Linked DNA regions of Homo sapiens. The protein of the gene in region 1 purifies or fractionates together with the protein of each later gene. This does not show direct contact. Each region holds a gene or a part of one and is shown in the gene's direction. Other genes may lie near its edges. The genes, in order: FOXP3, HIPK1, SUGP2, RORC, SMC3, NUP133 and WRNIP1.

The links.
Region 2: the proteins of FOXP3 (region 1) and HIPK1 purify together in Homo sapiens (affinity purification with mass spectrometry; one large-scale study listed by BioGRID and IntAct). This does not show direct contact.
Region 3: the proteins of FOXP3 (region 1) and SUGP2 purify together in Homo sapiens (affinity purification with mass spectrometry, with the first as the bait; one large-scale study listed by BioGRID). This does not show direct contact.
Region 4: the proteins of FOXP3 (region 1) and RORC purify together in Homo sapiens (co-immunoprecipitation; one study listed by IntAct). This does not show direct contact.
Region 5: the proteins of FOXP3 (region 1) and SMC3 purify together in Homo sapiens (affinity purification with mass spectrometry; one large-scale study listed by BioGRID and IntAct). This does not show direct contact.
Region 6: the proteins of FOXP3 (region 1) and NUP133 purify together in Homo sapiens (affinity purification with mass spectrometry; one large-scale study listed by BioGRID and IntAct). This does not show direct contact.
Region 7: the proteins of FOXP3 (region 1) and WRNIP1 purify together in Homo sapiens (affinity purification with mass spectrometry; one large-scale study listed by BioGRID and IntAct). This does not show direct contact.

Annotation. Positions count from the first base shown.
Region 1 is NC_000023.11:49,257,889-49,262,074, reverse strand, and holds part of FOXP3 (forkhead box protein P3), read left to right. Parts: intron 1-3,547; 5' UTR 3,548-3,569; coding exon 3,570-3,779; intron 3,780-4,186. UniProt on the Homo sapiens protein: Transcriptional regulator which is crucial for the development and inhibitory function of regulatory T-cells (Treg).
Region 2 is NC_000001.11:113,970,658-113,974,843, forward strand, and holds part of HIPK1 (homeodomain-interacting protein kinase 1), read left to right. Parts: intron 1-1,166; coding exon 1,167-1,297; coding exon of another isoform or gene 1,298-1,381; exon of another isoform or gene 1,382-1,401; intron 1,402-2,366; coding exon 2,367-2,855; 3' UTR 2,856-4,186.
Region 3 is NC_000019.10:19,009,285-19,013,470, reverse strand, and holds part of SUGP2 (SURP and G-patch domain-containing protein 2), read left to right. Parts: intron 1-3,128; coding exon 3,129-3,616; intron 3,617-4,186. UniProt on the Homo sapiens protein: May play a role in mRNA splicing.
Region 4 is NC_000001.11:151,821,380-151,825,565, reverse strand, and holds part of RORC (nuclear receptor ROR-gamma), read left to right. Parts: intron 1-4,186. UniProt on the Homo sapiens protein: Nuclear receptor that binds DNA as a monomer to ROR response elements (RORE) containing a single core motif half-site 5'-AGGTCA-3' preceded by a short A-T-rich sequence.
Region 5 is NC_000010.11:110,587,915-110,592,100, forward strand, and holds part of SMC3 (structural maintenance of chromosomes protein 3), read left to right. Parts: intron 1-1,690; coding exon 1,691-1,794; intron 1,795-1,977; coding exon 1,978-2,077; intron 2,078-2,497; coding exon 2,498-2,658; intron 2,659-3,076; coding exon 3,077-3,218; intron 3,219-4,186. UniProt on the Homo sapiens protein: Central component of cohesin, a complex required for chromosome cohesion during the cell cycle. The cohesin complex may form a large proteinaceous ring within which sister chromatids can be trapped.
Region 6 is NC_000001.11:229,501,406-229,505,591, reverse strand, and holds part of NUP133 (nuclear pore complex protein Nup133), read left to right. Parts: intron 1-3,489; coding exon 3,490-3,593; intron 3,594-4,186. UniProt on the Homo sapiens protein: Involved in poly(A)+ RNA transport. Involved in nephrogenesis.
Region 7 is NC_000006.12:2,771,757-2,775,942, forward strand, and holds part of WRNIP1 (ATPase WRNIP1), read left to right. Parts: intron 1-1,181; coding exon of another isoform or gene 1,182-1,242; exon of another isoform or gene 1,243-1,295; intron 1,296-4,186. UniProt on the Homo sapiens protein: Functions as a modulator of initiation or reinitiation events during DNA polymerase delta-mediated DNA synthesis. In the presence of ATP, stimulation of DNA polymerase delta-mediated DNA synthesis is decreased.

The DNA of each region.
Region 1 (4,186 bases):
CGCTCTTTGTGTGTGTCTCTTTGTCTCTATGTATCCCTATCTCTCAGCCAGTCCCCTGGATAGAGGGGCAATTGTCAACTTGAAGCCCTGCAGACACCTAATGACTTAACCAGACAGCGTAGAAGGGCCCTGGCCCTTGTCTACTCCACGCCTCTCCGTGCTCAGTGTAGAAGGGCAAATTGAAGACCAGAGATCTCAGGGCCTCACCGAAATGCAGCGGCAGAGTTGAAATCCAAGCCTAGATCTCAGGACTCTAGGTGGGACCCTGGTTCTGGCTCTCTCCCCAACTGCAGGCCTCAGTTTACCCCTCAGCACCCAGAAGGGGGAAGGGGAACCTGGGCTACCATTCCCCCTTCTGCCTTCTCACACGTTGGACCCCAACTTCCCACAGGTTGGACGATCCACGATCACAGTGTGGGGCCCAGCCTCACAAGAGCTGGGCTAGGTGAGGCCCCGGACTCCATAGGTCAGGAGGCCTAGTTGGCCAGAGCGTGGTGATGATGGAGGCATGTCAGTCAGTCAGGCTGTGTGTCCCCAGAGCTGGTGCTGGTCCCCGAAAACCTTGATTGTGGGGCCCCTCTAGAGAGTCTGATGATGGGCTCTGTATTGGCGAAGGCTGAGGCTTTTCCAGCTCCCCCCATGAGGCCCAGACCAAAGGCACACCAGCCTCAACCTCCTCCTCCCCCTGTTGCCATCTCTGGCGGAGTGGCCATGTATTTGGGAACGTTGTTCCAGAGTGGACAGGGAGACTGAGGCCCTAGGGAGGCTGGCTCTGTTTCCAGGCCTGGTAGGCAAGAGGCCCTATGAAGCAGCAAGCTGCCTGACTTTCAGATGGTTCCAAGGAGTTTGGACACCAGGGACACTGGCCTACACATACTGAGACTTTGGGACCGTAGACCCCACAGTCTGTGGTTTTGAGATTCTAGGATCCTTTAAATCTAAGAAATGCTGTTCTATGATTCTGAGGTCCTGGTGTTATACTATTTGAAGACCCCAGGGGTCCCAGTATCTGTGGAGCCTGCCTGGCACTCTCAGAGCTTCAAACCTGGGTCCTCTCCACAACCCAAGAAGGGCCAGGTCTTCAGAGCTAGGGGCTTGTCATAGTGGCCAGATGGACATCACCTACCACATCCACCAGCACCCATGTCACCCCACCTGGGCCAAGCCTGCTGCAGGACAGGGCAGCCAGTTCTCGGAACGAAACCTGTGGGGTGGGGTATCTGCCCTCTTCTCTTCCTCCGTGGTGTCGATGAAGCCCGGCGCATCCGGCCGCCATGACGTCAATGGCGGAAAAATCTGGGCAAGTCGGGGGCTGTGACAACAGGGCCCAGATGCAGACCCCGATATGAAAACATAATCTGTGTCCCAGAAACATCCCCCATTCAGCTTCTGAGAAACCCAGTCAGAAAGGGACGTCCCAACAGACAGTGCAGGAAGCCGGCTGCCCAGCCCGGCCCTCTAGGTCCTCTACCCCCAGACAGATCATCTCCATGTCCCTGTCTGAGAATGTATCTATGCTTTGCTGAGTCAGGCCATCCCACATGTGTTTGGGGAGAATTCTTAGCTCTGGCCAAGTGTCCAGGCAGCTTCAGAAGTGACCACAGGCCAGCCACATGGGCCAGGCCAGAGTGGTGGAAAACATCCATTTGCACCGAAATCGGTATTAGTTTGTTCTGGCTGCTATAACAAAGTACCACAACTGAGTGGCTTCAGCAACAGAAATTGATCATCTCACAGTTCTGGAGGCCAGAGTCCAAGATCAAGGTGTTGCCAGGGTTGGTTCCTTCTGGGGGCCATAAGGGAGAAGCTGCTCCAGGCCTCTCCCCCAGCTTCTGGTGGTTGCTGGCAATCTTTGTTATTTCTTGGCTTGAAGGAGCATCACCCCATCTCTGGCTTCATTCATTCACTCACCTTCTCATCTCACCAGTGCTCTCCCAGGCCCTTGTTCGGAGCCTCCACAGACCCACACTCCTGTTTCTCACGCAGTAATGTTCTAAGCCCCCAGGAGACTAAGAACTTAATACCTGGATTCTCACACTCATCTCCCTCAGCACCACAGCTCTGACAACCACCCCCAGGAGGTGACAGCAAAGAAAGGAAGGAGCAACTGCTCCCCCAGAACCCTTCTATACTCCCCCGGGCTGCTCTCAGCAGCTGTGTGCCCAACTCAGTGCTGTGAGGTGGAACGGGGAGATGGAGACACACACACACACACACCAGAGAGTTTATAAAATGTGCACACGGAAACACTTCCTAAAGAAAGAAGTGGAGTTCTCAAGTCACTATGGGACTACGGAACTCGGCATCTGAGCATCCCCTTCTGTATAATGGGGTTGGCTGGGCAGTCCCTTCCAGCTCTGGCTTCCTCTCAGACCAGGATTATAGGATCCTGAAAAGCCAGTGCTTCCCTCAGGGAGTGGAAGGTTCTGGGGCTCAGCAGGGGGCCCGGAGCCATTGTGGAGGGCTTTCAAGGTGAGGACAATAGAAGAGCAGGTCTTGCGTGGCTTGGACAGGGAAAGAGGAGAAGGAGTGGGCATTTGAGGCAGGGGGTGTAGCATGAGCCAGGCTTGAGGGCCAGAAATTGGGGTGAACTCTGATGGGGGCTGGGTAGAGAAGCTTCTACAGGCCCCAGCTCAAGAGACCCCATCTCTCCTCCTCTCTGTCACTTGCCATGCTGGATCCGTGCATGATCACACTCCTGGACTCGCCTCCTTGCCCTGAGATCCAGACCCCCGTATTCAGCTGCCCCCTCAGCTCCTCCACTCACATATTTAATGCCAGACTCTTCATGTCTATCTACACCTGCACTTTTGCACCCAATCCAACTCCCCGCCATGTCCCCCATCTCAGGTAATGTCAGCTCGGTCCTTCCAGCTGCTCAAGCTAAAACCCATGTCACTTTGACTCTCCCTCTTGCCCACTACATCCAAGCTGCTAGCACTGCTCCTGATCCAGCTTCAGATTAAGTCTCAGAATCTACCCACTTCTCGCCTTCTCCACTGCCACCAGCCCATTCTGTGCCAGCATCATCACTTGCCAGGACTGTTACAATAGCCTCCTCACTAGCCCCACTCACAGCAGCCAGATGAATCTTTTGAGTCCATGCCTAGTCACTGGGGCAAAATAGGACTCCGAGGAGAAAGTCCGAGACCAGCTCCGGCAAGATGAGCAAACACAGCCTGTGCAGGGTGCAGGGAGGGCTAGAGGCCTGAGGCTTGAAACAGCTCTCAAGTGGAGGGGGAAACAACCATTGCCCTCATAGAGGACACATCCACACCAGGGCTGTGCTAGCGTGGGCAGGCAAGCCAGGTGCTGGACCTCTGCACGTGGGGCATGTGTGGGTATGTACATGTACCTGTGTTCTTGGTGTGTGTGTGTGTGTGTGTGTGTGTGTGTGTCTAGAGCTGGGGTGCAACTATGGGGCCCCTCGGGACATGTCCCAGCCAATGCCTGCTTTGACCAGAGGAGTGTCCACGTGGCTCAGGTGGTCGAGTATCTCATACCGCCCTAGCACACGTGTGACTCCTTTCCCCTATTGTCTACGCAGCCTGCCCTTGGACAAGGACCCGATGCCCAACCCCAGGCCTGGCAAGCCCTCGGCCCCTTCCTTGGCCCTTGGCCCATCCCCAGGAGCCTCGCCCAGCTGGAGGGCTGCACCCAAAGCCTCAGACCTGCTGGGGGCCCGGGGCCCAGGGGGAACCTTCCAGGGCCGAGATCTTCGAGGCGGGGCCCATGCCTCCTCTTCTTCCTTGAACCCCATGCCACCATCGCAGCTGCAGGTGAGGCCCTGGGCCCAGGATGGGGCAGGCAGGGTGGGGTACCTGGACCTACAGGTGCCGACCTTTACTGTGGCACTGGGCGGGAGGGGGGCTGGCTGGGGCACAGGAAGTGGTTTCTGGGTCCCAGGCAAGTCTGTGACTTATGCAGATGTTGCAGGGCCAAGAAAATCCCCACCTGCCAGGCCTCAGAGATTGGAGGCTCTCCCCGACCTCCCAATCCCTGTCTCAGGAGAGGAGGAGGCCGTATTGTAGTCCCATGAGCATAGCTATGTGTCCCCATCCCCATGTGACAAGAGAAGAGGACTGGGGCCAAGTAGGTGAGGTGACAGGGCTGAGGCCAGCTCTGCAACTTATTAGCTGTTTGATCTTTAAAAAGTTACTCGATCTCCATGAGCCTCAGTTTCCAT
Region 2 (4,186 bases), on another chromosome or scaffold:
CAACCCAATTACTTCCATCATCTTTGCCCTGTTAGATACTGGACTTAAGCTCCCTGGTTTAGTTATTGTGTTAGTTGGGTAATAGCAGTTGCAGTAACAAATCCTAGATTTTTGTAGCATAACATAGTAGAATTTTACTTCTCTCTCATATAATTTCTTGGTACAAGTGTTTGATTCCTGAGCATCCAGTCAGAAGGAGAAAGAAAGTGTGAAGGAGGCACACACATGTCTTAACCTCTTTAGGCTGGAAATAAGTGGAAATAGTGAATGCTTCTCACATGGCCCCACCTAGATGCAAGTGAGCCCAGGCAATGTAGTCTTGTTAAGGCAGCTGCTTTTCAGTGACAACTTCATACCAAGGAAGGGGTTGGTGAAGTTTAGGTGTCAACATAAACCTGGGCCATACTTGTATAAATTATGTTTTATTATGTATTATCTTACTGCCATAGACATAAACAGGGTTGTAATTTGAGGGTATTGTGTTATGCCTCTGTGTGATTCTTTTCAGAAGTAGACAGTTGTCCCATTGCAGACAAGAGAGAGAGCTTCCTGATGCCAGGCTACTGAATAGAATTATTAGTACCTCCGTGTGCTCTTGGGTCCAGAGAATATAGGCTATCACATGAGACACTGAATAAATGCTCTGGTTTTCCTAATGGGAACACAGAAGCAAGCAAAATTTCACATTCAGCTGTCCTGTAATTTCTAAGAATTTGAAGACAGTAAGTGTCCAACAAGATAGAATTTTGCCTTCTTTTAAACCCTCTTGCCACTTTAATATCCTAAGAATTACCAATAGCTTTCTCAGCTTCACATTATCATTTCTGTGCTTGTTTAATCCCTTCCTACATAAAACTATAAACTCTTGGAGAGAGGGATGGTGTCTTAGCATATTTGTATTTCCAGTCGTTCCTTGTATATAACAAGAGATTATAGTTAAAATATTTATAATATTTATTTAAGTGAACATTTTGAGGATCCTATGTGGAGATTTGTGCCAAGACAGAAAAGAAATGGGTGATAACAGGTTATTTTCTTCTGATGTAAATAGAATTGAGACCTTAATGCTTGCAAACTACATACAGATGTGGACTAATTAATATGATGCCATCTGAGGTTAGCTCAGTGATGTCTACTCATAACTATTAAGCCTGGTGCTTTTTTAGGTCTCCTGAGCAATAAGACTAAGCCAGTCGCTTCAGTGAGTGGGCAGTCATCTGGATGCTGTATCACCCCCACAGGGTATCGAGCTCAACGCGGGGGGACCAGTGCAGCACAACCACTCAATCTTAGCCAGGTAAGTGCTATGGGCTACTGCCTTCTGTTTGGGCCCTGCACTGTTGTTACTTTCTGGAGAACCCTGCTTCTGGCTGGATGCTGAATAAAGCCAAATGAAGCCCCTTTTGTGTCAAACAATTTTGTGTTCTATGGCTTACGTCGTACCGCATATGCTGTGTCTCTTCATTCACTCTGTAAGTGTGTTCAGGATGTACATTCTAGGTTTTCCATCAGACCTCCCTAAGTCTACCCTGGAAGGTTAGAGAAACGTCTGGGATTTAGAAAGAGCCTGGGGTGCTTTAACCATGTCTGTGATAGGCATATGCTTTGAGACCAGATTCTCTTTATCCCCCAGGCCATAAGTAAGCTGATCCTTACATTGTTTACTTGAGTCAAGAGATTGTGAAAAGCTCATTGGCCACCAAATTCAACTGGTTCTAGGTCCTACTTGTTGCTGGAGTCTGCGATTTGGGACTTCCCCACTCTCCGAACACCCCCAGCCCCAACCTACCCTTCTGCTTCTCTCATTACTTTATTCTATTTGTGTTCACTCTTAGAAGCTAAAATTCGAGTGCTTGTATGATGTCCACCAGTAGTGAGAAAGTGTCAGTATGAGGGTATGTGAGAGAGAGCACATGCAAGTGAAAATGTAAGTTTGAGTTAGTGCATGTATTTTAGTTTCCACATTTCAAGAGGGGTATGAAGAACTTAGAGGACGAAAACAAAAGAAAGCAATGGTAAGAAATAAAGGCTAGGAAAAATTCAAATTTACTGACGCCAGAATAGGGTGAGTTGAGTCACCAGTTATTAACTTGCAGGAGTGGGGAACCCTATGATCTCTTGATTCTCCCTCTTCCTGTCATACTTACAAGCAAAATGCTGTTACCTGAGCCAGATTAGGATCTATCTTGCTAAGAGGCAGAAGGAGGGGTGGCTGATTTCTGACAGCATTCAATGCCAGTGTGGGAGATTATGTGCTATACCCATTCGAAAACAGTACAAGTCAGAACCTGAGCTCTTAACTTGGCCTTTGGTGCCCTGAGCTGGAGTGACCTCAGGATTCCTCACTTCTTCCTTCTTTCTTCCAGAACCAGCAGTCATCGGCGGCTCCAACCTCACAGGAGAGAAGCAGCAACCCAGCCCCCCGCAGGCAGCAGGCGTTTGTGGCCCCTCTCTCCCAAGCCCCCTACACCTTCCAGCATGGCAGCCCGCTACACTCGACAGGGCACCCACACCTTGCCCCGGCCCCTGCTCACCTGCCAAGCCAGGCTCATCTGTATACGTATGCTGCCCCGACTTCTGCTGCTGCACTGGGCTCAACCAGCTCCATTGCTCATCTTTTCTCCCCACAGGGTTCCTCAAGGCATGCTGCAGCCTATACCACTCACCCTAGCACTTTGGTGCACCAGGTCCCTGTCAGTGTTGGGCCCAGCCTCCTCACTTCTGCCAGCGTGGCCCCTGCTCAGTACCAACACCAGTTTGCCACCCAATCCTACATTGGGTCTTCCCGAGGCTCAACAATTTACACTGGATACCCGCTGAGTCCTACCAAGATCAGCCAGTATTCCTACTTATAGTTGGTGAGCATGAGGGAGGAGGAATCATGGCTACCTTCTCCTGGCCCTGCGTTCTTAATATTGGGCTATGGAGAGATCCTCCTTTACCCTCTTGAAATTTCTTAGCCAGCAACTTGTTCTGCAGGGGCCCACTGAAGCAGAAGGTTTTTCTCTGGGGGAACCTGTCTCAGTGTTGACTGCATTGTTGTAGTCTTCCCAAAGTTTGCCCTATTTTTAAATTCATTATTTTTGTGACAGTAATTTTGGTACTTGGAAGAGTTCAGATGCCCATCTTCTGCAGTTACCAAGGAAGAGAGATTGTTCTGAAGTTACCCTCTGAAAAATATTTTGTCTCTCTGACTTGATTTCTATAAATGCTTTTAAAAACAAGTGAAGCCCCTCTTTATTTCATTTTGTGTTATTGTGATTGCTGGTCAGGAAAAATGCTGATAGAAGGAGTTGAAATCTGATGACAAAAAAAGAAAAATTACTTTTTGTTTGTTTATAAACTCAGACTTGCCTATTTTATTTTAAAAGCGGCTTACACAATCTCCCTTTTGTTTATTGGACATTTAAACTTACAGAGTTTCAGTTTTGTTTTAATGTCATATTATACTTAATGGGCAATTGTTATTTTTGCAAAACTGGTTACGTATTACTCTGTGTTACTATTGAGATTCTCTCAATTGCTCCTGTGTTTGTTATAAAGTAGTGTTTAAAAGGCAGCTCACCATTTGCTGGTAACTTAATGTGAGAGAATCCATATCTGCGTGAAAACACCAAGTATTCTTTTTAAATGAAGCACCATGAATTCTTTTTTAAATTATTTTTTAAAAGTCTTTCTCTCTCTGATTCAGCTTAAATTTTTTTATCGAAAAAGCCATTAAGGTGGTTATTATTACATGGTGGTGGTGGTTTTATTATATGCAAAATCTCTGTCTATTATGAGATACTGGCATTGATGAGCTTTGCCTAAAGATTAGTATGAATTTTCAGTAATACACCTCTGTTTTGCTCATCTCTCCCTTCTGTTTTATGTGATTTGTTTGGGGAGAAAGCTAAAAAAACCTGAAACCAGATAAGAACATTTCTTGTGTATAGCTTTTATACTTCAAAGTAGCTTCCTTTGTATGCCAGCAGCAAATTGAATGCTCTCTTATTAAGACTTATATAATAAGTGCATGTAGGAATTGCAAAAAATATTTTAAAAATTTATTACTGAATTTAAAAATATTTTAGAAGTTTTGTAATGGTGGTGTTTTAATATTTTACATAATTAAATATGTACATATTGATTAGAAAAATATAACAAGCAATTTTTCCTGCTAACCCAAAATGTTATTTGTAATCAA
Region 3 (4,186 bases), on another chromosome or scaffold:
ATTAAAGGAACAGAAGTGAGGTCTATAACTTCCGTACTACTATAGAGAGAAAGAAGCAAAAACACAGGAATTGGAAAACACAGAGATGGGAAATTGCATAGCAGGTGAACGCTACCAAAAAGAAAGGATGTAGAGAATTGTTTAGGCAAAAAAGACTTTAAGGAGAACAGCACTAAAAGGAGCAAAAGAAGTTCCTGATAAAAGGGAAAGTCATCACGAACATATAGATTGTGAATCTTGGTGCCTGCACTACATAGCTTTGAGCCATGTAAATAAACAACCTTTAGAAATCATTTAAGTCCAGAGCTGGGTGCGGTGGCTCATGCCTGTAATCCCAGCACTTTGGGAGGCCAAGGTGAGCAGATCACCTGAGATCAGGAGTTCAAGACCAGCCTGGCCAACATGGTGAAACCCCATCTCTGCTAAAAAAAATTCGAAAATTAGCTGGGTGTGGTGGCGGGTGCCTATAATCCCAGCTACTCGGGAGGATGAGGCTGGAGAATCACTTGAATCCAGGAGGCAGAGGTTGCAGTGATCCGAGATTGCGCCACTGCACTCCAGCCTGGGTGACAGAGCGAGACTCCGTCTCAAAAAAAAAAAAATCATTTAAGTCCAAAACCATGATAAGAGGAATTGGATGAATCCAAAACCATGGTAGGAGACATTAATGTTTCTCTGAAATGCGTAGACGACGTAATCCAAATAAGGTTGTGGAAGATTTTATAACACAGGAAATGAGCATAAACAGAGACAATCTGCTAATATTTGTTGAGCGGTTAATGACTACTAGGCAGTTTTCATAGCACTTGCCTCCTAGTGAAAAGCTTATAACGCAGGCCTCACAGCTGTATGATGAAGTAGCTACTGCTTATCATCTTCCCTGTCTTACAGATGGAGAAACTGAGGCACAGAAAGGTTCCCAGCTAATAAGTGGCTATGCTGAGATTTGAAGCCAGCAGACTGGCTTGTTGAGTGTTCTCTGTTCTTGATGTTATGTTCCACTGGAACTTGGGAGATGCATTTGGGACTGACATCCTCGGACTGCACTTGGCATCAGAACCATCCAGGAACAAGGAAAGCCATCAGAGCCATGAGTGACTGGGGCAGTCAGGTCACCTGGCCCTGATTCTGCGCTCTGCCCTTGATGAGGAGTTGCCTTGCTGGGGCTGTGTTTGACTTGAGAACCAGAGTGCCCATGTTGGTCAGCATTCTCTTAATTGAGCGCTATTGCTTATTAGGGCATGATCTTGCAGGATGCCACCGTTAGCCCAACAGAGTGCCAGGGCAGCAGTGGAGCCGGTACTCAGTCGTTTTGTCAGGTCCAGACAGACCTCAACTGGCTAACAGTGTCAGCAGGAGCTTGTGTATGGAGCTGCCTGCCAGGGACATGCCACATCACACAGTGCTGCCAATGCTGTGCAACACACAGCCACCTTACTTCTAGTTGGCTTGTCACTGGTAATCTGGAACCTCATCTAATAACTGATATGTCGCTACTTAATATCAAACAATCTGAAAGCCACCTGAAATACTGCCATACTTACTAAGCAATATTCTTCTTTAACACAAACTGAAATCAAATATTCACAAAAGTCTGTTATGTTTGTTGTGGGGTGGTTATTTATTTATTTATTTTTAAAGAGATGGGGTTTCGCCATGTTGCCCAGACTGGTCTTGAACTCCTGGGCTCAAGCGACCCACCTGCTTCCGCCTCCCAAAGTGCTGGGATTACAGGCGTGAGCCACCACGCCCATCTTAAAAGTTCGTTATGTATGAAATCACAGAGAAAATCACAGCACACCCAGGAAATTCACGTGGGCCACATTATGCCAATACAGCAAACTAGAAACCAGCAACAACCAAAATAAAACATGTTTCTGAATAACTTTTGAGTGAAGGGTAATCATAGCTGAAATTAGAAGCAATTTAGAAGGAAGTGGCAAGAAGAACATTATATACCAGATGCAGTCATAAAAATACTTAAGAGAAAGAGTGACTTCAGGTGACTTTATTAGAAATAGTGGGCCAGGTGCAGTGGCTCACACCTGTAATCCCAGCACTTTGAGAGGCTGAGGCGTATGGCTACCTTGAGCCCAAGAGTTTGAGATCAGCCTAGGCAACATGGTGAAATGTCCTCTCAACCAAAAACACAAAAATTAGCCAGGCGTGGTGGTGCGCGCCTGTAGTCCCAGCTACTGGGGAGGCTGAGGTGGGAGGATCACCTGAACCCAGAAGGTCGAGGCTGCGGTGAGCTGTAATCAACTCATGAAGCTAGAAGGAAAATGATGAAAAAAGTAAAGACACTAGAAGGAGAAGGTTTTTTTTTTTTTTAAAGATAGGGTCTTGCTCTGTTGCCCAGACTGGAGTGCAGTGGTGCAATCACAGCTCACCACAGCCTCTCGACTTCCTGGGCTCAAGTGATCCTCCCACCTTAGCCTCCAGAGTAGCTGGGACTATAGGCATGCACCACCACCCTGGCTAATTTTTTTATTTTGTGGAAATGGGATCTTGTTTTGTTGCCCAGGCTGGTCTTGAACTCCTGGGCTCAAGCAATCCTCCCGCCTCAGCCTCTCAAAGTGCTGGGATTACAGGTGTGAGCCACCACGCCCAGCTGAATATTTTTCTGTTAGTACATGTAGCTCAACCTTCTCTTTACTGTTCTCATCATGATGACTGGGTCATAAGATTTCACACCTGGGCCGCAGGCTCCTTGGTTAATGTTCTCTTGTGGTTCACATCACACTTTCCTTGATGCAGTCAAAAGCTCACCGAGCACTCATCCTGGCTGGGCCATTTAAAAGGTGTCAATTCTGCCTGCCAGGGTGCTATGGCTCCAAGGTGACTGGTTTGTGTTTCCAGGCCATCAAGAGCTGGGAGCTCCCTCACGGCTGCTGCTGATGGAAATCAAGGAGGAACTCAGTTCAAACTCCCGATTGCCCTGTGGTCACTCTTAGCAGGGCAGCTGTCTTGGGCCTAGCTCTGGGTCCTCAGTAGAGCCAGGCAGAGCCTCTGAGACAGGAGAGGACAGTGAGGAGTTGGCCACTTAGAAAGGGTTTGTGTTTGAAGGAACAATTTGGGACCTGGTGGTGTTTTCATAAATGTCCCGTTATGCTTGTTTTGTTATCTAGGTTTTTGTCTGATGAAAATAGTCTGGAGTATAAATATTACAAGCTGAAGTTGGCAGAAATGCAGCGGATGAGCGAGAACTTGCGAGGAGCCGACCAGAAGCCGACCTCAGCAGACTGTGCAGTGAGGGCCATGCTGTACTCCCGGGCTGTCCGCAACCTCAAGAAGAAACTCCTTCCGTGGCAGCGGCGGGGGCTCCTCCGTGCTCAAGGGCTCCGGGGCTGGAAGGCGAGGAGAGCGACCACCGGGACCCAGACCCTCCTATCCTCAGGCACCAGGCTGAAACACCACGGCCGGCAGGCTCCAGGCCTCTCACAGGCAAAACCATCCCTGCCAGACAGAAATGATGCTGCCAAGGACTGCCCGCCAGACCCAGTTGGACCTTCTCCTCAGGACCCCAGCTTAGAAGCCTCAGGCCCATCCCCCAAGCCAGCAGGAGTGGACATCTCTGAAGCACCTCAGACCTCTTCTCCCTGCCCATCTGCTGACAGTGGGTGCTCACTCCTGTCCCCCTCCTCTGGGCCCCAGTCCCTACTCTCCCATCTCCAGGGTCTCTTTAGAATTGGGGGGGCCTGCAATCTAGGCAAGGCAGTGGATAAAAGCTCTAGGGACCTGGCCAGGACAAGTGTACATGTTGGCGCTTTCTCTCTTGCTTTCTTGAGAGAGCTGCATGCGAGTCCTGCAGCTCCCTCCTCCTCTTCTGAGAGCGGAGCTGGTATGAGGTGCTGCCCCATGCCTTCGTGCTCCCCGACAGGGTCCTGCTGCTGGGGCCGTGGGCGGTGCATTGCCTGAACTTGGGATCCCATGTCCTGCTATATCCTGGCCTCCCTTGATAGTCTTCGGGACTGCCTTGTTCTCATTGCGCCTCCTCATCCCCAGGGTCTCCACAGTTCCTGTTCTTGGGGTTCGCTGACCTGCACTGCTTCCTCCGAATCGACTAACTTCACCCCTTCTGTTTCTTCTGTCACCTTAGCTGTTTCTTTCTCTCTGTACCACAGGCCTGCTCTCTGGCCAGTGCTTCCTAAGCACTAAGTGGGAAGGAGAGAGCAAAAAAGTGTCC
Region 4 (4,186 bases), on another chromosome or scaffold:
CTGAACGCACTCTCCTGTTACAGTGTTTCCCTTGTTACGGTGTTTCCCTCTGTGCCTCCAGCCTGCTTGTGAGTAAAAGGAGGCCAGAGCAGTTGCTGTGCTCTGAAGCAACAGGACAGCGAGAGTCAACTGAGGTTGGCAGGCAGCAGGGCACAGAATCCCCGCGTCCAGGCCTCAAAGCCACCAGGCTTTCTGCCCAATCCAGGGACATGAGGACTATGTGGAATCCAGTCAGGGTGCACCCGGGCACATGCCTGCGTGTGTGTGCATGTGTGTGTGTGCGTGTGTGTGTGGGGTGTGTGTGTATGTGTGTGTGTGGTTCTCCAGGGTCAGTCACCCATTTGACCGGGGAAGCAAGGCAATGGAGATGGGATTGGAAAGACCTCGGCCTCACCCTTTTCCTGGCTTGGAGCCCTGGGCCAACAGTTGGTGGGCAGATGTCTGGGGTTCCTGTGCCTTCCAGCAGAGCAAGGGTGGGCAACCTCAGGAAGTCCCCTGTATTTGTTGTGAAGGGAAGCCAGGGAAGCCAGAGAAGCTCTCAGAGCACAAGGTGAAGGAGGAAAAGGGAAGCCCCATGCCCCTGTGGCTGAGGCCTGAAGCAGCCCCAGCTTCAACCTGGGGTCTTCCCACAAGCCACAGAAGGGAGGCCGTATTGAGTCCTGGAAAGACCCCTGGACTGACAGTGTAAGACCAGGCACTTGTGCCGCCTATCACTGGCTAGCCATATAGACTTAGACAAGCCAAGTCACTGGGCCCTGGTCTACCATCCGCAAAACAAGGGAGCTGAATTTTAAGATAGAACAACAAAACCAACTATGGAGAGTCTCCCATTCCAAAGGCCCAGGGCCAAGAGAGAGCCCAGTGCCCTAAGGCAGGCATCCCCAAGGGTGATGATGGAGACTCAGCTCTCCCAGAGGTTAGAAGGAAGGGAAACCAAGGAAAGAAAAGAATTCCACTTCTGTGACAGGGACTGAGGCCACAGTGCAGGCATATGAGCTGGGGTGGATAAGGAGGGCTGGAGAGAAGAGCCAACAGCTTCTACACAGAGGAAAGGGCCCCTTGGAGCTTCCGTTTCCCTTCTAGCTTCTCTCTATTAGCAGCAAACGCTGGCAGACTGGTCTTCCCAGAGATGGCCCCTAATGAGCAAATCAACCCTGGGATGAAATGACTAGGTGTGCTTCTAGCCCAGCAGCGGGGCAGGAGTCCCCAGGAGGGGCTGAGGGAGACACTTGGCCAGCTCTCCATTATTCCCACCCCCACCACACACACACAGCCCCACCCAGGCGGGGAAGTAGGAGAGAGGGCCTCCTCCAACGAGGGGGTCAGTGCCACTGGTCCTTCTCACTTGGACATTTACAGGTATCTCATAGCCCCAAGTTATCTGACCCCAATGAGTGCCAACCACCACCAGCCCCTCCAACCGCCGATGGCAAAAGTCAAAGCACATGGGGCTTGGGACTGTGACACACCCAGAGACCAAGGGCCCGACAAAAGGAGCAGAAACAAATCAAGAAATAAGGAGAGATGCAGAGGCCCAACTCAGAGGGCGAGTTTCTGGAACACCTAGGGAGAGAGTAATGTCCAGCTGGAGGTGTGGTTGGAGAAACACCAATAGAGCCAAACGCATGGAGGTGCAGCCGGGCGTGGTGGCTCATGCCTATAATCCCACTTCAGGAGGCTGAGGCTTGAGGCCAGGAGTTTGAGACCAGCCTGGGCAACAAAGTGAGCCGCTGTCCCTACAAAAAAAGTTTTTTTTAATTCGCTGGGCATGGTGGCGTGTACCTGTAGTCCCAGCTACTCAGGAGACTGAGGCAGGAGGATCGTTTGAGCCCAGGAGTTCAAGGCTGCAGTGAGCTATGATCAATGTCACAGCACCCTAGCTTAGGTGACAGAGCGAGACCCTGTCTCTTAAACAAACAAACAAACATGAAGGTGTGAAGCCCAGAAACAGAGCTGGAATGCAGAAGATCACAAGGCACATAGACACAGGGAGAGGCGGAGAGAAAAGATAACTGGCAGTAAAGGGAAGACAGGGAGACACAGGGTCTAGGCAAGCGGTAAGAGGGAAGTAGGGTGGCTCTGACAAGGATGGCACCAGCACCCTGCCATCCGACCTGCTGCTGTCAAGTGGAGATAATGTGTCTGTACGCCAAAGAGACTCCCAGCCAGCCAGACGGAGGGTAGCCCAGACATCTTCCCCTAAGGGCATGGCCAGCGTGGCGCCAATAGGCACTCAGGCCCTGGCATTTGGTCTGGATGGGGAGGTGGGAGGCCGAGGGGTGTGAGGTCACTGTCTATGAGCTGATCTTTCTTAGGTTTGGTCATGATCATGAGGAACAGTGGGCCAGAAAGGACTCCAAGTCCCCAGGGTACACAGATATCACCCTGAGAGCCCAGGGCCATCTTAGGACTCCGTGAAGGGCTTCTTCCTTCCTTTCATCACTCCAGCACCCTTCTCTTTCCCCGTCTTCCCATTCCTAACAGAAATACCAAACCACCGAGCCCAAGGTGCTAGACTCTGAAAAGACTCAGCTTGTCCCAGCACAATGAAAATATTCGGTCCCTACCAAGGGCTCCTCCCCATCCCCTGCCGCTGTGCTGCTGACTCAAACTAACAGGGAACAGGACTTTCCAAGGGCTAAGGTCTCTCCCAGGCGGGCAGCCCAAGGCCCGCGCTCCTGTTCCCATATAGCTAGTCCTTTCTGAAGTCTCACCTCCACGCCTGCTGCTGCAGTGCAGCCCCTTCCCTGGGGCTCTGAGGCTCAAAAAGGATGGAGATGTCTATTTCGGGGGAGGGACAGTAACAAGGCAGGGCCTCAGGGCCAGAGCCAAGGTCTTTCTGGGTCCACTACCCTCCTGGAGCAGTGAAGGTGCTCTGGGATGAGGGACAGATGGCCCTGAAGGCAGGGAAGGTGCTGATGGTGACGTCTGGGCTCCCACTCGCCAGAGCTTCCTCCTAGTGATTCATCCCCTCCCCCATTCACTGGTTGTTTTCACTCGCCTTTCTCCAGTCCCAGACTGTGGGGGTGGCGGAGGCACCAGGAGGGGGTTTCGGGTGGCTGGCTGGCTGTCATTCATGGCTTTTCAAAACCCCAGACTCTCCCTCGCCCACCTGAGTTTTAGCTTCACTATTTTCTCAGCCCCAGGATCTGGGTGTTTCAGCAGAAAATTCTCACCAGGAGCTGCGGTGAGGGCCCTGGCCTGGGCTGGGGGTAGTGTTCGCCAGGTAGAACCACTTCTCCCCCAGCCCCCACCCAGCCCTCCCGCTCCTGCTCCCCTGTGGTGGCACCCACCACCTTGGTTTCCAGCTTTGCAGAAGCTGGGGGAACTGAGAGCTGAGAAAGGAGGGAGGCTGGTGACAGGTTGGGGTGTGCAAGTGACCCCTGACCGGAGCTGTGGTCTCGGTGGGGATCGAGACAGAGAGTTCTGGCTGTGGGGAGAGGAGGAGCTCAAGCTAAGGAAAGAGATGCATTCCTCTTTCTCACTCATTCATTCATTCTGCAAAGGGAGGCATACCAAGATGTATGGAAACCTAGTCTATACCCTAAAGGGGCTGTGGTGTTCCTGAGGAGTCCCCGGGAACCCTGTTGTTGATATATAAGTCATCCCACTTGGCCTTAGAGAAAGGGGTAAGGGCAGGAGGAGGCTGGGACCTCAGAGGAAGAGTTGGGACAGAGGGAATAATATCTCTTGGGATCTTTATACAAACAGGAGTCCTGGCTTTAGTTCTGTGGGTTTCCTCTGTGAATTCTGTTCCTAGACCACCACAATCACCTCACACTTTTACCCCTACAGCCAAATAACCATGTCCTCTACCCAGGTCTCCGGTGTGCATTTGGGCGTCTTATCCTCATAAAGTATATAGCTTAAGGCTTGAGGGCACTGGCTGCAGAATTACAGAGATCTAGGTTCAAATGCCAGATCTGCCACTTCTGGCTGTGTGACCTTAGTCAAGCTGTTTATTCTCTCTAGGCCTCAGTTTTCTCATCTGTAAGATGAGGATGATACTAGCAGGGCCTATTTCACAGGGTGGTTGTGATCATTGAATGAAAATGCATGTAAAGCCTGGCACAGAGTAAGAATTCAGCCAATGCTTATGTCTATCATTATCCTTTCTCCTTAATCAGTATCCACTGGAGAAAAAGGAGAGAGAAAGAGGAGAGGAAAAGGCCCAGCTCTAGATTGA
Region 5 (4,186 bases), on another chromosome or scaffold:
TCAGATACCACTGAGTCCCAAATTCCTTATGTGTAGAATTAAAGGGTTTAATTATCCAAGATGTTAAAAGTCATTCTGATTATCCAAGATTTTTTGAGACAGAGTCTCGCTGTGTCACCAGGTTGGAGTGCAGTGACACAATCTCAGCTCACTGCAACCTCCCCATCCTGGGTTCAAGTGATTCTCCTGCCTCAGCCTCCCCCAGTAGCTGGGACTACAGGCGTGTGCCATCACGCCTGGCTAATTTTTGTATTTTCAGTAGAGACGGGGTTTCACGATGTTGCCCAGGATGGTCTCCATCTCTTGACTTCATGAGCTGCCCACCTCGGCCTCCCAAAGTGCTGGGATTACAGGTGTGAGCCACCGCGCCCGGCCAATCTAAGATTTTGTGACTCAGTAGTAACATTGACTTTTTGTCAGTGGAATTAGTAGTAACATTGACTTTTGTCCATTAAAATTTTGGACAAAAAGTCAGTGTTACTACTGAGGATGAATAATTGTCAGTACTCTGTGGGAATATTTACAATTACTTTGATATCTGACAATAATTAGTTATAATACAAACAGATGAATGTAATTACTTTATGAAGCAGTTTGAAGCCCTTCCCCTGAAGGATGATCTTCAGCTTTATTTTGCTTGTCTTATTGCTTCCCAGTAAGGCAAGGATTTTTGTTTGCTTTGGTCTTTTATGATTCCCCAGCTCTTCTAAGAATGCCTGGTACATACTGGGGTTTTGGTAACTTCACTAAGTGGATGAAGTGTCAGCTTCCTTAAACTCTAGCCAGTGAGGCTATTGGATTTTTTCAGCTCAGTATAGTCTACTAAATTAATGAATACAGTTCATTAATTCTCCTTAAGGAAACAGCATCTTACGTTAGGTTCTTAGAGATTTGTTATAGGTTCTGCCAAGATTTTTAACTCATTTTTCTTGAATGTAAAATAGTTGAAAATAGTTTTTGTGTTCTGTTGTGTGTGTGTGTAGAGGGGGCAGTATGAAAGTATATAATGGACTATTATGAGAACTTAGAATTTTTTTTCTAAAATTCTGGAGTGTATATTATAGAAATAGGAAGATTTAGATCACTAATGAACAAATTAACTTTTAGCAACATGTTTTATAGTATTTAATGGTTTGTGTTTTCTGGTGTGGTATGCTCTTTTGCCTAAAGACAACTTTTAAAAACTGAAATGGGGCCGGGCGCAGTGTCTCACGCCTGTAATCTCAGCACTTTGGGAGGCCGAGACGGGCGGATCATGAGGTCAGGAGATCGAGACCATCCTGGCTAACACGGTGAAACTCCGTCTCTACTAAAAATACAAAAAACAAAAAAAACAAACTGAAATTGGATTTTTCAACAGCATCATTGAGGTATAATTCACATACAGTAAATTGTACATATTTAGTGTACATCATTTTTCCTAGTCAGGAAAGTGGCAAAAATAAAGTATATAATTTGATGAGTTTTGACATACGTATACATCTGTAAAACACCACACAGTTAAGACACCACACACCACAGTTAAGACAATAAACACGTTTATTACCCAAAAGCGTTTTCCATACCCCTTTGTAATTCCTCCCTCACCTTTTGTCCGCCTCCCCCATCCATCTGCAACCACTGATCTGCTTTCTATCAGTGTAGATTAGTTTCATGAAATTGAATTTTAAATTTATTTTTATTTCCATAGAAACTGGACCAGGATCTTAATGAAGTCAAAGCTCGAGTAGAAGAACTGGACAGAAAATATTACGAAGTAAAAAATAAGAAAGATGAACTACAAAGTGAAAGAAAGTTAGTATAGACTAAAATGTGCATTAATGTTTTCAGTAATGTTCGTTACTAGCTGTTATGTGGTCTTTAAGTTACAAGTTAACCGGTCAGGCTTGTTTTCTGTATTTTGATTCTAAACTGTATACTGTTAATGCATCCTCATATGTGTTTAAAATTAAAGACAGTCTACTTTTTATTTATTAGCTACTTGTGGAGAGAAGAGAATGCAGAACAGCAAGCACTTGCTGCTAAAAGAGAAGATCTTGAAAAGAAGCAACAACTTCTTAGAGCAGCAACAGGAAAGGTGGGCAGGTTCTTTTCATCACCTCTGTTTACACTGAGTCATTGAGTTAATCGTTATGTAATAATTTTTTACCTTTCAAGGTGTAGGTCATGGGTTCCAAGTGATAAATAGGAGTCCAAATTATCTTCTAAATATGAAATGATAGAGATTAAATAGTTTTATTACTACACATACTATTAATAGCACTTTTGATGTTCAGATAAAGAGCCCATTTTTAACACTACTGTTATGGAACAGAGCCTATCATATAAGGTGTTACATGTAGTTGGCATATTGTGAGGAGGTGATGTGTTTGTTGGAGAGGATGTTTAGTTTAATCACTGGTATATTTTTAAAATGTATGGTGTTGTGGGCTCATTCCTTACCAGGAGTGCCATTGATGATATTATTTTAATATTTTTCATTTCTGACAACTTACAGGCCATTTTAAATGGAATAGACAGCATAAACAAAGTGCTAGACCACTTCCGTCGAAAAGGAATAAACCAGCATGTTCAAAATGGCTATCATGGTATTGTAATGAATAACTTTGAATGTGAACCAGCTTTCTACACATGCGTGGAAGTCACTGCTGGAAACAGGTTAAAGCTTTTGCTTGATATTTAGCATTTTTAGAAGAGGGAATAAGAATAGCTTAAACAACTTTTGTAGTTTTTGTACAACATATCTTCCATTATCTTTTTATATCTCGGTTCCTTAACTTTCTAATTAAAGAAGTAGATGCTAAGTATTTGTTCCTAATTATAGAAGCTAGAACTTTCCTCTTTTGGGAGTTTCTCCCTCCCCGCCATTGGAATTTTTAAAGTAGTCTTATTTTCCAAAATTATTTGGATTATATAGGAAAAAACTGTTTGATGCTTAAGTGTTTATAACATTTTAAAAGTGCACACCTTTAGTCCCAGCTATGCAGGAGGCTGAGGTGGGAGGATTGATAAGTTTGGGCAACATAGGGAGACCCTGAGTACCAATAAAGATTTGTCTTACTCTGTTTATATTTAGGTTATTTTATCACATTGTTGATTCAGATGAAGTCAGCACGAAGATTTTAATGGAGTTTAATAAAATGAATCTTCCTGGAGAGGTTACTTTTCTGCCTCTTAACAAGTTAGATGTCAGGGATACAGCCTATCCTGAAACCAATGTGAGTCATTGTGTGATAAGGTGTATTTCTCTTTTATAATGTTATTTTTTATCACATAATCTAACACATGCTAGTGCCCAGGCACTATACACTGGGATTCAGTGGTGTATGAGATAAAAATATCTGTCTTCCCATGGACCTTAGTGCTGAGTGGGTTTTGGGGAGGGAGACAGAAGTCACAGCTATGATTGGTGTGGTGATGCACGCCTGTAATCCCAGCTACTTGGGAGGCTGAAGTGGGAGGATCATTTAAAAAGAAGAGAAAAAAGCTAAGATATGAAACAAATCATTGCAAATGTGCAGTGTTAAAAGCGTAAGTACAGGATACTTTGAGAGCATATCTGGGAGTGACATAATTAAGGTTAGGGAGTTGGAGAAAGATTCCCAAGGAACTGTCATGTATAGTTTAAAAGTGTCTTGACGTACTTAGGATTAAATGAAAAAAATGGCTAGTAAGGTGATAGACTTCGGAAGCATAACATTGCTTTTGTTGGTAACAAAAGTGCACTTTAGGTGGATTAAAAATATTCTTCAGACACCATTCTTAGAACAGTGTAATTGCTTTGAGGTACTTGACTTCAGAATGTTGATGGTAGCATCAACTGTTTTACCATCCTCTGAAGTTAAAGCTGAAACCCCATGAGAATGATCAATAATTTAAGTGGAACATTAAGAATCTTGTAAGCTATCAAAGGGTCTGACTTTTTCTGCTATCACATCTACAAATTGTCTTTGAAGTTTGGGTAAGAAAAATTGAGTCTCAAAAACATGATGTATGAATGGAACGAGACACAAAGGAGTACATGGAGCGTGGTTCCATTTACGCTGAGTAAACAAAACCAAACTTAGGGCCAGGCTCGGTGGCTCACACCTGTAATCCCCTCACTTTGGGAGGGGGAGGTGGGCGGATCACCTGAGGTTAGGAGTTCAAGACCAGCCTGGCCAACAAGGCAAAACCCTGTCTCTAC
Region 6 (4,186 bases), on another chromosome or scaffold:
TTTTTTTTTTTTTTTTTTTTTTTTTTTAACTGTAATTGAGATGTATAATACATTCGAGAAGGAGAATGAGTTCATTTGAACACAATCAAATTAAGTCTTTAATGGTTTTAGGTACTGTACAGTAGTCCCCCATTATCTTTGGGGGATATCTTCCAGGATCCCCAGTGGATGCCTGAAACCTTGTATAGTACTAAACCTTATATATACTGTGTTTTTTTAATACATACACACCTATGATAAACTTTAGTTTATAAATTAGGAACAGTAAAGATGAACAACAGTAATAATAAAGTAGAACAATTATAACAATATACCAGCAGCACTACTCTTGTACTTCGTTTGGGGTCATTAACTAAAATGAGAATATAAGCATTGCATTACTGCGACAGTTCATCTGGTAACTGAGACAGCTACTAAGTGACAAACAGCTGGATAGTCTCAGGGGTGTCCAATCTTTTGGCTTCCCTGGGCCACTTGGAAGAAGAATTGTCTTGGGTCACACATAAAATACACTTACGATAGCTGATGAGCTAAAAATAAATAATGAAAAGGTCTGTGTATAAATCTTATCATGTTTTAAGAAAGTTTACAAACTTGTGTTGGACCGCATTCAAAGCTGTCCTGGGCCACACGTGTCCCTGGGCCATGGGTTGGACAAGCTTGGGGTATACAGTATGGATATGCTGCACAAAGGGTTGATTCACAACCTTTAGGCAGGACAGTATGAGATTTTATCACTTTACCCAGAACAGCATGCAATTTACAACTTAGGAATTGTTCATTTGAATTTTCCATTTAATATTTTCAGACTACGATTGACCACAGGTATTTGAAACTGCAGATAAAAGGGGGAAATACTGTATATGCAAAATTCAGTCCTGTTTACAGAGTTGATCAGGTTTATGAAGTTTCCCGTGAAACCCCAAAACTGGCACCTCATGTTATTGGGTTTAATAATACAGTAAAATCAAGTCCTACCTCCATTTCTGGATCCTATGTAGCATCCCAGAGGCTGTGTGCACAAATTTATGACGTTACCATTGTCGTGGTGTACCTTTAGAAGCGTCTGTTGGTGGAGAATTAGTGTGGAATTTTGACAGATACAATCAACACAAGCTTAGAAAGGCAACTTTAAAGATGAGCAGTTGGATGACACTGGAAGAGCAAAGTTCAGAGCAGCCTTAATATCTGCTGAAGTCATTTTTATTAAGGCTTGAATTCTAGATCTTTGTGATTTTTCTGGAACAGTATTTTTCAAATTGTAGGGGTGACCAAAATTTAGCGGTTCTTGACCAGCATTTAAAAAAAGAAGAAATAGAATGCATCTCATATGTTTAGTAAATTTTGTTCGTTTTACTTAAATTGTATATGGGTGTATCGTGATGTAAAATGTATTATACTGTGAATAACTCTATTTACTGTATAACTTAATAACAGTAAAAAAAAAATGCTGAAATTACTCTGTTTTAGAAGAAGGAATATATCTCATCAACTGGAACTTGGCACATCTTGCCTGTAGGTCCTTGGGAGCTTTAGGGATAGTTGTTTTCAGACAACTACTAACCTTTCTATACATTGTTCTGTTTTAAATAAATAAATGTATATATATATATTGGTATATATGTGTATATTTTTCCCCTCTAAAAATTTCAGTTTACATTTAAACCTTTTAATGTACTACTCATATTTTAACAGACTAGATTAAATAACACAGCCCCAAATCTAGAAATTCAGAGAGTCCTTAGAAATTAGGATATATAAAACAAAGAGGTGTGTCAACTTGAAGAACTCTTCCCCACTTAGAAACCTGCCAACTACTGTTAAGTCAGCCCTTAAAGGCACACCGGTCGAGGATCTGGAGTTGTAGTGCTTTCAAGAAAAAGAAAATTACTGAGCAGATAGTTCAGTTGAGCAAAAAGCCTCACTCAGCCTGGGCTTGGTTTGATATTTTTGCTTGTACATTGTCTATGCCTTTTACTTCACCCTTCTACCTTTCTGTAAGTAAAGAGCAAAGCTCAACTTAATAAAATTTCCAGGGCTGTTAACACATTTGTGGAGGTTTACCACCAATACTTAAGATATGTGCTAATTTAGTTTTGTCACTTAATAGAGAACGTAACTCTTTGTCTCCATGTACTAAATAATTTATCATTCCTTTAAGGAGCTCTTATTTGAAAATTATGTGCTTTTGGTCCTCCAAAAGCACATTGTTTTCCTTGAAATGTTTTATATAGTTAATGAGTTTGTTATTTGTTTTACTTTATCGATATAATTATAAATGTTGCTAAATATTTCTTTTTTGTTTGTTTGTTTTGAGACAGAGTCTTGCTCTGTTGCCCAGGCTGGAGTGCAGTGGCGCGATCTCAGCTCAATGCAACCTCTGCCTCCCAGGTTCAAGTAATTCTCCTGCCTCAGCCTCCCGAGTAGCTAGGATTACAGGTGCACGCCACCATGCCCCCATGCCTGGCTAATTTTTTTTTCTATTTTTGGTAGAGATGGGGTTTCATCATGTTGGCCAGGCTGGTCTCGAACTCCTGACCTCATGATCCACCCACCTCGGCCTCCCAAAGTGCTGGGATTACAGGCGTGAGCCACCCTGCCTGGCCTCTCTTTTGTTGTTTCTGCTTACTTATTTTTTGATATGGAGTCTTGCTCTCTTGACCAGGTGGGAGTGATGTGATCATGGTTTACTGCAGCTTCAATCTCCTGGGCTCAAGTGGTTCTCCTGTGCCTCAGTCACCCTAGTAGCTGGGAAGTGCACTGCCAAGCCTGGCTATTTTTTTTTTTTTTTTTTAAGAGAGAGAGTCTCACTATGTTGCCCAGGCTGGCCTCAAGCAGTCCTCCCAGGGTGGCCTCCCAAAATATTGGGATTTATAAGCATGAGCCACTGTGCCTGGCCTAAATATGTCTTATAGGAAATAAGCTATCTGGTCTGTTTGTAACAAAAAATTAAGGAATATTAAATGTCCCAAATACACTTTTTGCCTTTAGATATATTTCTTTTTTCTTTCTTTTTTTTTTTTTTTTTTTTTTGAGATGGAGTCTGGCTCTGTTGCCCATGCTGGAGTGCAGTGGCACGATCTCGGCTCACTGGAACCTCCACCTCCCAGGTTCAAGCGATTCTCTTGCCTCAGCCTCCCAAGTAGCTGGGACTACAGGCACGTGCCACCACACTCAGCTAATTTTTTGTAGTTTTAGTAGAGTTGGAGTTTCACCATGTTAGCCAGGATGGTCTCGATCTCCTGACCTCGTGATCCTCCCACCTCGGCCTCCCAAAGTGCTGGGATTACAGGCGTTAGATATATTTCTAAAGTTGGTTATCAGAGTTAATAGATCTATTGTTTTTGGTGTTGATAATTTTGGAATATTCAAAAGTATTTGTTGTGAGGTAGTCGTTTCTGAGTGTGCCAATTACTTTTTTTTGATAAAGCGTGTGGTAATAAAGATTTATACTATAAGATTAATCACCCACCTCATTTTTTCCTTTAGTCGATGACCAGCTGACCATTAACATAGATGAAGGTGGATGGGCTTGTCTGGTGTGCAAAGAGAAGCTCATTATTTGGAAGATTGCTCTGTCACCTATTACTAAGGTAATGGCTCTTTAGAGAGCTGGAACAAGATAGAGGAGAGGAATGCCAATTGACTTTTCATTTTTACCCTAATTTTTTTACAGTTGGAGGATAGTCAATAGGAAACTACTTAGGCATTAAGAGTTTGCATTTTCATAGTGATGTGAAATAATGAGCATGCATACACATTTGTGTATTGGGAAAAAAGTTTCCCCCTTTTGAAGATCTGTGTTGTTTACATTTAATAAAATTAGAGTCATTGATATTTCCAATGAATATAATGCTAATCCGTCTGCCTAATGAAGTATCAGACTAAATGCTATCCACATAAGCAAATGAACTTTGAGTTTGCGTATTTCTGAGAAGACAGAACTATGTTTTGTTGAACCTACTGAATGATGCTTAATAAAATAAGAAAATATGATACCAGTTGCTAGTTAAACTTTTCACTTGTCCACTTCCAACAGTGGGTTATCATTTGCATGTCTAGTAACGTATCCTCAGCAACCTTTTTCTGTTTGTTACAGCTTAGATACACTACTCTCTTCTACCAGTCATTACTTCCTTGGCCATGTTCCGTTGGAACTCAGGGCTCCTGCTTACCTCAATTCTTC
Region 7 (4,186 bases), on another chromosome or scaffold:
GATACTCATGTGTAGGTTTCCCGTAACAGAATTCTCATTACAGACGCATAGAACCACATGGTAAAGACAAATTGAAAGAAAAGGGGGGAAATCCTAACATGTTTCATGTTTCTGTGTGTTCTTTGCTCTGTGTACTGGTTATCGTAATGTATCTGCAACTTAATATTCTGCATGTGTACTTGTCTGGGGTGATTTTTATTGATTTCATGTCATCAGTTCATGAAATAGAACATGAAATCAATAATTAATATTGATGACATGAAGTCAATAATAATCAGTTGTTACTCAGATACCCTCAGGTTTTTTCACCTCTCCCCAGTCACTGCCGTGCAGGAATTTAAAGGAAATGAGAAAGGCGGCAGCCAAGGAGCTCATCCTTGTGAGAAGAATTTCTATATTTTATTATTAAAAATCCTCAGGTGATTTGCAGGCACATTAAAGTTTGAGAAGATCAAGTGAAATAATTAAGATTTAGTTATTGAAACTGATATAACAATGAGCTAGAGATTGTTTATCTGCTAAAATTGCTTTTCAGAGAAAACTTCCCATATCCAGTAAATGATTTACTATTTCCACTACCGCTTGCTTAGACTTGATCCCAATTATATTTGCTATCTTGTGTCCCCCGCTTTCCTGGGAAGACTGTGAGGACAGGAGCTTGTCCCTGTTCATATCCCCAGCACAGTGCCTGGCACACATTATGTGCTTTGTGAATGGTTTGGAAATGAATAAATCCTAGCTTTCGATATGAGAAAAGTAGTTTAATATGTTTTGCATTATCCAGCATAAGGGATAATTACCCAGGTATCAAGAGCCTTTTTCTTTAATACTATTGCCCTTTTCATCAGCAGCAAGCAGAGTAAAATGAAAGAATGTTAAGCTTAAAACCATTAATTGGTCAACTTGTTAGCAATTCTAACAAGAAGTTAAGTTAGGAGATATCATAGGCCACAGAAAGAACTCTTACAAGTGATTTCCGAATACAAGTACCTGCCACCCCAACTGTCAGGGATAATTAAGAGTGGATTGGGATGTCTTTTAGTTGTTTTAGGTAAAATTTTGCTTTCCAATCCCTGTTGACAGCTCTATATACATCCTTGTGCATATAAATCAGATTTGGTGACACTAATCTAGTTGAAAGAAAAGACTTCCAACCCCATATACTTACTTTCTCTCTCCAGGAAGCTATTGGTGTGCATTTGTATTCTTGTGTCATGTTTTGGTGCCCTAGATAGCAACTAGAACATTTACAGAGAAGTCCCAGGCTGTTGAACTGCACGTGAGAGGAGGTGAGCAGGGCACTGGATTTGGAAACTAATCAAGCTGCCGCTTAGCCGTTCTTGATTGCACTTGAGGAATTGTGAGTTGTCACACAGTATACTCATGTAAGTGATAAATTCCCATTAAAGTGAAATAAGTGTTCTTTTTTTAAAAAAAAATTCCCTCCTGTAGTTATTATTCAGTCAAAATTGAAGCTCCTGCATATGCTAGGCATTGGCTGAGGGTTGAAAAGCTTGTTCCTGTGCCTTCAGAGGGAGCGCAGTATGATGAAGGCTAGGGGAGCAGGTCCACTTCCAGTGCCACGCTTATACGCCAAGTGCAGTGGGCGTAGAGAAGCAGCATTCAGAATATGTGAAATCCAGTATTTCACCTCCTAGATGAGGGGATGCGGAGTTGAGTTTTGAAGGATAAGCAGAATTTAACTGAGTGAAATAGAAAGCTCATTGTCTACGCCATAGTTGCTTTGGTTTGTATGGCTAAGCAGTAGTGTTCAGGTATTTTGCTCTCCCAAAAATATTTGGATCACATGATACAAACAGTGAAGATTCTGTCTGCTCTGGGTTAATTTTGGAGGCCAGGAAAAAAATGTCCATGATTCATGATACGAAGAATGAGCTTGTGCTGCTGAAAATGAAAAAGTAAGCTAGCATTTCGTCATCCTGCACTACTTGCTGCTTTGAAGGAATATAGATTCCTAGGTCATAGAATATATACATAGTCAAAAACACTCCTAAAGAATCAATTATTTGTGAACCAGATAGAGTATACAAGTCTTTGGAGATCAAGAGAGTGAAATGAGAAGCCATAACTGCCCTCTGCCTAGCTAGGCTGAGTTCCGAGAGGTGGTTGGAAGACAGAAAGTGGCGTCTGTCCCTGGGTAAGGGCTGTGGCGTAACTGGGTGTGGGGCTTTTCTCTAATCATCTGGAGAGGAGAGCCCCTGACAAGCTGGCCCCCAAACAAGGTGGCTATGGATTCTTCTTTTTATAAAAGTTTAAAGTGTCTTAAATAACCTTTTGTGCCATTGAATAGAAAGAAAGGTAGTGGAACTCCAGAATACAAGGGATTGGCCAGAATAAATGGTTGGTATAGAGTAGATGTCAATCTTTTTATTTAAAAATTTTTTAAGTACATTAATACAGTACATTAACATAGCTGTTTTAATACAAGGGTGCATTAAAATAATGCCATAAAAGCACCAGCAGCCAGAACCACAGATCTCATGGTCCTTGGATGCACTTCCTGTGGCTGCTGTAACAATTGCCACAAACTGGGTGGCTCAGAACACAGAGCTTTATCCTCACAGTTCTGAAAGCCAGAAGACCAGAATCAAGGTATCAACAAGGCGATGCTCTCATCCAGCATCTGATGGCCCTTGGCATTCCTTGGCTTATGACTATGTCACTCCAGTCTCTACATCCATCTTCACATGGTGGCCTTCTTCTCTGTGTCCTTACGTCTTCTCTTTTTCTGTGTTTTGTAAGGACATTTGTCATTGGATTTAAGGTACACTCTAAATCCAGGATGATTTCATCTTGAGACCCTTAGTTACATCTACAAAGACCCTATTTCCAAATAAAGTCACAGTCACAGGTTCCAGGGATTAGGACTTACATCTTTTGGGGTCACTATTCAACCCACTACAGACCCCTACCAAGTATAATGTAATTTGGAAAGACATGTGCCTCCATGGGATTAAACAGAAAGACGTCGTCATCTGAAATGTACCTTCTCTCTTTGTGGAGAAAGTCAGTTTTGTTTTGCTTTGCTTTCACTCTGATGTTATGGAAGCGGCAGCATCTGGGGCTCTGCCTTGGATATGTGCAGTTCTGGAGAGTATGCTGTTGCACAGTCTGATGAGGGTGATTCTCCTCGCTGTTGATACCAAAGCAGTATTTGTCGAGTCTCATGACATGGCAGGCACTGCTCTAAGCATTCCACATGTCTTAATCTCATTCAGTCCTCAATACAGCTCTGCAAAGTAGATCTCATTACCTCCTATTTACTAGATGAGGAAACTGAGGCACAAAAAGGTTAAGTAACATGCCCAAGACCAACCAGCTTCAATGTGATGGAGCCAGTGTTTAAGGCATGTCTCTGTCTTCTCAGTGACTTCAAGTGCTACAAGGGGTGGAGGTGCCAAGTTTACAGAGGATGGACCCACTGCTCGGTTTTTCTGTTCTGACTTTTCTCTCTTGGCACTTCTTTGTGTAAGAGCAGCAGGAGAGCCTTTTAACCAGATCTGCACATCACACTTCCCTGGGATACATTTTAGAAACATGCCTTGCCCAGGGTCTGCCCCTGGAGATTTGAGCTCAGTCTATGGTAGGTAAGGTACATGTGGCTGTATTTGTGTCTAACTTGATGCATATCCCTGGTTGAAACTTCTACACAGCAGTTATCACCCTGACCATGAAATGTTCCTTTTCCTTAGTGGAAGAGATTTGTGGGGTTTGGTTTGTAATTTAGAGAGGGAGAGTTTAACCAAGCCATGCATATTCTTTCATTCTGCCTTGAAATAACAGGTACATTTTTACTTACTGCACTCCTTCTCCAACTTACATATCCAGCTGTCTAAGTAGTATCCTCCAAATTCCAGTATTACCCAATGTGTAGAAAGCTTCAGGATTTAGGCACCTGGAAGAGGAAAGAAGAGAGCTTCCTATATTCTTCTGTTAAAATTAAAGCCCTTCTCATCAGTTGGAGAAGCCAAGCTCTCTTAAGTCTGTTTCTATCTCTAGGTTTTGTTAACTAGAAATAGAATCTTTTCCAATGCATTTATTTTAACCAATTTTCCCTTATTATAAATAGTGTTTTATTATAACAACATAATTTACTTCCTATTGTTTATTTCCATGTAGGATGTTATGACATTTTGGGCAGTCTATCCCCAGAATAGATTTTACC